2 separate regions of the Homo sapiens genome follow, and region 1 is linked to region 2. The links come from fine-mapping of genetic effects on gene expression. A gene starts in region 2. The other region holds a variant in brackets. All regions are shown on one strand. Distances are from middle to middle. Region 1 has its middle 32 kb from the start of PRICKLE2-DT. Region 2 holds the start of PRICKLE2-DT (PRICKLE2 divergent transcript).

What was found.
Region 1: its variant is fine-mapped to the expression of PRICKLE2-DT in nasal epithelium (TOPMed, PIP above 0.99).

What each region holds. Positions count from the first base shown.
Region 1 is chr3:64,412,272-64,415,178 of GRCh38, forward strand. No RefSeq gene overlaps it. Among named protein-coding and RNA genes, the nearest start is that of PRICKLE2-DT, 32 kb to the right of the region's middle. The variant C/T (reference allele first, on the strand shown) is at 1,640.
Region 2 is chr3:64,443,570-64,446,476 of GRCh38, forward strand. PRICKLE2-DT (PRICKLE2 divergent transcript) reads left to right here and starts at 1,688. Exons shown (of 4, transcript NR_183714.1): 1 at 1,688-1,838.

The DNA.
Region 1 (2,907 bases), 31 kb before region 2:
TGAACCTCATAGCCTTCCTCCTGCATTAGATCCCATAACAGTGTTTTTGAGGAAGGTATCCTTGTCTTCATGTACAGGAGAAACAATAAGGATCAGCAAAGTTAAGCAACTTGTCCCAGCTTTTAAGGACCAGACAGAGCTGGGTTTGAATGCAGGTTCTGTAATTTATCAGCAGTGTGAGTGAAGTCAATACCGGGACTCTGAGACTCAGTTTTATTCTGTAAAATGGCAACCTACCTTGTAAAGCTGTTGTTAGCACTGAAGGGAAGGCATATGAATAAGCACCTACCACAGTAGGGACCACAAAGTAGGGGTCCAGCAAACATTCGTTCTCATCCCTTTCTTTTATGTTTGGTTATTTTCTTTTTTTCTTTGCCTAATGGGGAAATATTAGGCATACACTTGGCCAGTTGTCCTTACTCATTGCTAGGACTATTAAGGAAAGAGCTATTCAACCCTCCTCATTGCTACAATGTGCACCCGAATTTCATGACTCCAGCATAAAAACAAAGTCCCTACTAAGAGGATTATGCCCACCCAATCTAATTCTTCTGAGTGTCTTCTAATGTGTGGCACACGTATCGACGATGGGAGCACCATGTAGTGAAGCTGGTAATGTTTCTTGGTCCAGGCCCTGAGTGTTCGACCTGGGGAAAAATTTTCTTTTTGTATACTTATGATTTGTGTACTTTTACCTATGCATGTTGTATTTCAATACAAAATTTGTTAAAAGGATGTCCATGCTTGCACATCCCTTGGAAGAGTCTTCACTATATGTCATTGGGTCTCATACCCTAATCATATATTAATACTATGCCTTAAGGTACCACCTGCCCCCAATCTCAGCCCCTGCCTCTTCCAGCCTCCCATTCCTTCAGGTCCTTTCTTAGAGCTTGTCCTTAGGCTCCAACTTACGTCTCTCTCTTCCCATGACCCTTTATCTTGGCACCTCACCCCAGTTACAGAACCTGTGTTTCTCAACTTCTGCCCCTACCCTCTCTAATCTTTCATCCAGCTTGTCTTTCCCCAGCCTCAAACCCCGGATGTCCATGTACAGTCAGATGCCCCGGGTCCTGCCAGCCCTCCTTGTTCCCACCACCTCTTTCACCACAGGCACTATGCCCAGGCCCAGCTTTTCTACCTGGCTCAGGAATTCCCACTTCCTGCCCTTGGAGTTCAACCCTTTCTGCCTGAAACCATGGTCTTGCCTACTCTTAAACTTGTCTTTTTTTCCCTCTTACTATCCACTAGTTTCCTTTCTAAATTAAGCTCATCTTGATTTTTAAGGGCTAGTTTTAAAGAAAATGCTAAGTCAACAATCACTAATTTTGATAGCCAATGCTTGCTGAATGCTTATTACGTGTCACACACTGCTCTCAACACGGTTCGTGTATTGACTCACTCAGTCCTCCTAGCAACCCCCTAAGGAAGGTACTATTCCAATCCCTGCTTTGTAGATAAGGAAAGTGACACTGAGGCCTGGAGAGGTGAAACAACTTGCCCAAAAACACACAGGGGCTCAGGAGTAGATTTGGGCTAGAAACCTATGCAGTCTGAGCTCCGAGCCAGAGCTCCTAACAGAAGCACAACACAGAAGCTCCTCTCTGCAATAGGAAAGGTCCTTAGACATGGCCAGAGG[C/T]AAGGAGGGGGCCATGAGTGACTGGGCTTGGGAAGAAATGTTCTAAGCAATACAGTCTGGGAGGAAAAGATGGAGATGCCAGGCCTGGCCCCTTTCCAAATGGCACATAGTAGTTTTCTCTTGATGAGGAAGGTGTTCGCGGAGGGTTCTGGTGATGTCCTGGTTTTGCCTTCTCCCCTCTTTGAACACTGATTAGGAGGAGGATTGGCAAGAAAATGTTCACTATGCAGTGAAGAGAAGAGGAAGGGAATCCTTAGGGCATGCGTGTGTGTATTATGTGGTTGTTAGTAAACAGGAAGAATGGGTTGGTTATTGGAAAAGGTGGAAACACACGAATGTCCTTTGAGAAGCTCTGACTCACCTCTGGACATTCTCATTTTGACTGTACGAAAAGATTCAAAGAAATAGACGCTTCACAGAACACATGAGTAAGGAGGACAAATCTCCGACCAGAAAAATGCTTTTCTTTGTAAAAAGCAAAGTTTGATTTAAAAATAAAGACTACTCAGTAGTGTGGTTGAGAGAAGCCAAAACCTGCCTGTAATCCCAGCACTTTGGGAGGTCAAGGTGGGCAGATCACTTCAGCTCAGGAGTTCAAGACCAGTTTAGACAACATGGTGAAACCCCGTCTCCACTAAAAATACACAAATTAGCTGGGCATTGTAGTATGGAAGGCTGAGGTAGGAGGATGGATTGAGCCCGGAAGGTCAAGGCTGCAGTGAGCTGAGATAGCACCATTGCACTCCAGCCTGGGTGATAGAGTGAGACCCTGTCTCAAAAAAATAAAAATAATTTTTAAAAAAATCATGGAAAGCCAAGCGTGAAAAACAAATAATAACAAAAATAAAAAACATATATAAAAGAAAAGCCAAAACTATCCCAAAACCATCAGCTGTGTTCACAGACTTCTAAGGAGAGGCAACAAGAAAAATACCTGAGGCCACATCCTCCCACTCCCCACTCCCACCCCTGAACTCCTGTCAGCGTTCTTCATCTTTTCTGAACCTTAGATGCCTTTGGGCACCTGGTAAAGCCTGGAACACCTTCTCAAAGTAAAATGAGTGATTAAGATATATCAGATTATAGGGAAAATCAATTACATTAAAATATGTTTATTCAATTTTTTAAAAAATTTGATGTAGCAGAAGTCCTGGCTGGAGCAATCAGGGAAGAGAAAGAAATAAAAGGCATCCAAATGGGAAAAGAAGTCAAACTATCTGTCTTCACTGATGATGATTCTAAAATCCTAAAGACTCCATCAAAAGGCT
Region 2 (2,907 bases):
CACACATTACAAATGGGGAAAAGTAGAGATGCACTAATGCGGTGGGGGTGGGGGGCGGGGGGCGGGGTGTGGAATCAAAGCAGGCTTTTCTGCCTAGCATCCAGAAAAAGCCCTCTTCATAAGCAGCTTGAGTGGTGGAGAAAGGGGGAAAGATGCGCTAATCCAAGAGAGAATGTGTTATGATATTGCACAATTTTCTCCTGTCACCAGTTTTTCCTTTTTATGAAGACGCCAGGGAGGATTCACCTTTTGCTTGAAACCAGCAAACTGACAGCTTGTAAGCCTGCACCCCAACTTTTCCCAACCAGAGCCCCAGCAGCCAGATGCATTGGGAGGGCAACCAGCTCCCTTGTCTCCCAAACGTAATCATTCCAATCCAAGCTGGGGCTGCCTGGAAGTCAACACTCAAGGCACATTTAATAAGAAACATCTGGCCGCCGCAGAGGGTTGACACGGCCCAGGCGGGCAGCAATGGATTTGCGGTTGGGACCCAGAGTTACAGGCGCTGAATTAAAAACACAACTGGAAAACACCAGCTAGTCCAGGGAATCCTACACATACAGCACTGTGGCACTTGGCAACACTGCCTTGCCCAGGGTGAATTGTTTTGGAGTGAGTTACCTAGACACATAGTGCCCGTGCTAGGGATCCACAGTTCTCACATCAGTGAAACGCAGCCTTGAGCCCGGCTCTCCTGCATCTCCCAGTGTCTGGCCACCACTTCCACCTCCAATATTTGTAGCAGATGTAGCTCCGCTCTTAAAGAAACAGCCTTTGCATTCTTTCCATGTGACTTACAAGTGAGATTTAAGGCGGAGGGGAATATATATATATCTATAGATATATATATGTATGTATATTACATATTGCATATTTTATCTTGCTGTAGTGTTGTGCATTTACGGCTTCCTACCTCCATTTATGCAAGGCGAACCCAGGGCACTGGTCACCACAGGCGTTACATGGCTGGCCTCGCTCTATCCGCCCCAGTCCGGTCAACTTCAAAACAAAAAGACAACACACGCATGTCTCCACCACGGGGTCTCCCTCCACAGCCCCACTCGTGTCCCTGGCAGGATGGCCTGCCCCTCCCACCCCACCTCCTGTGATTTGAGCCAACTGCTCCTCTTCTGTATGGGGGACACGGGGCGGGGCACTGCCAGTGCCCCAGGGGTGGTCTCCCGCCTGCTTGGGGAAGGGTGCGCGGACCCAGGCAGGTTGCCTCCGGCATGGGCACTACACCACCACGAAATGACCACGGCTGGGGCTTTGTCTCCCCCAGACACCTTGGTCACGGGTTTCTAAGAAACAAAAGCAAGACCCTTCAGTTCCCTGGAGTCCGCAAGAAGCGAGCATCGGGCGCCCGCCCTAGACCGGGCTGGTGCTCCCGGAAAGGGGGCAGCAGAGGACACCCCAAAAGACGGCCCTAAAGTCCCCGCTAGAGCTCCAAGTGGCTGGACGCTGGAGCTTTGGTGCTGGGATTCCGATTTGCCCGGAGGGAGGGGGCTTTCCAGGGATCCCCCAGACTGTGACCCTGAGGGCCACGGTTCGGGTCTCACTGTCGCCCAGCCGGGGGGTCGGAACTTAACCCCTCCCGCGCCTTGGAGCGCTCTCTCGCGCCCTGGACGCGCCCCGCCCGCGGGGCCGGCTTACCTGGGGCCACAGGTGCGCAGCCGCGGGGCGCAGTGGGGCTGCGCGCGGGCGCTCGCGGCCGGCTGGAGGTGCCCGGCGATCGGCCCCGCTCGAGCGGGGGACACTCACCGAGCGGCTGGAGAGTCTTTTCCGGGAGCTCCGGCTGAACATGGCCGGACGCCTCCTGCTCGCAGCGCCGTCCGTCGGTCCGTCCGCGCCGCGGCCGGGAGGGCGGGTAGCCTGGGCGGGCACCCTCGGCGGCCGCTGGCCTGGCTGTCTCCGCCTTGCAGTCCCCGGCTCGCTCCGGAGCGCACGCCTACCCCTCCTCCCTTCCCTCTGCCTCTCCCTCCACGCCCGCAGGTCCCTCCCTCTCTCCCGGCATCCCCCCGCCCTCCCGGGTTCGCCCCGCGGTCCACCGGCTCTTCCCATCCCTCCCCCGCACCCGGCTGGGGCCACTTTCTCCCTTTCCCTGGCTTCTAGGCCCACTGGGCACAACTCCCGGCGCTTACCTGGTCCCGCCCCTGAAGGCTCGTCCCTCACCCTTGTCCCCAGCCTAGGGGCAGGGACCGTTTCACACCCCCCTGCCGCTGTAGCTGGGGTAGGGGAGTGGAGATGGAAGGATGAGGGTTGAGTTTGTTTAAGGTATAATCCACATACAGTAAATTCACCCTTTCTTAGTGCACAGTTCTGCCAGTTTTGACAAATTCGTACAGACCTGTAACCACCACCACAATCAAGCTATAGAACGGCGCTCTCACCCCCGAAAATGGATTATTTTAAAAGTTTGTACCATGCCTAGAATCTAGTGTTCATTAGGTGTTGGGAGAGGAAGAGAAAGTGGAGGAGGAGGAGGAATTATGCCCCTATGTAATTGTACAATGCCTGGAATATAGTAGATGCTCATTAAGTAAGTGTTGATTCATTGCATTCAAGCTTTGAAGCCATTGCGCCTTTAGTGCCTTTTTTCCCATTACCTTTTCCATCACTTCCTAGTTGGTGATCTCCCCAAATTAACCTCTTTGTGCCTCTGTCTCCTTATCGATAATAATTTTTTTAAATGATGTAACAAGAGTCCTTATCTCACACCATTGTTGAGAGAGCTGAGTTGGGGCATGTTTAGTTATTATAACAGGCACAAACTCAGGCTCATTAAAGATTAGCTGTCATGGCCTGGCATGGCTCACGCCTGTAATCCCAACACTTTCAGAGGGGGAGGCAGGACAATCTCTTGAGGCCAGGAGCTCCAGACCAGCTTGGGCAATCTGACTAGACCCA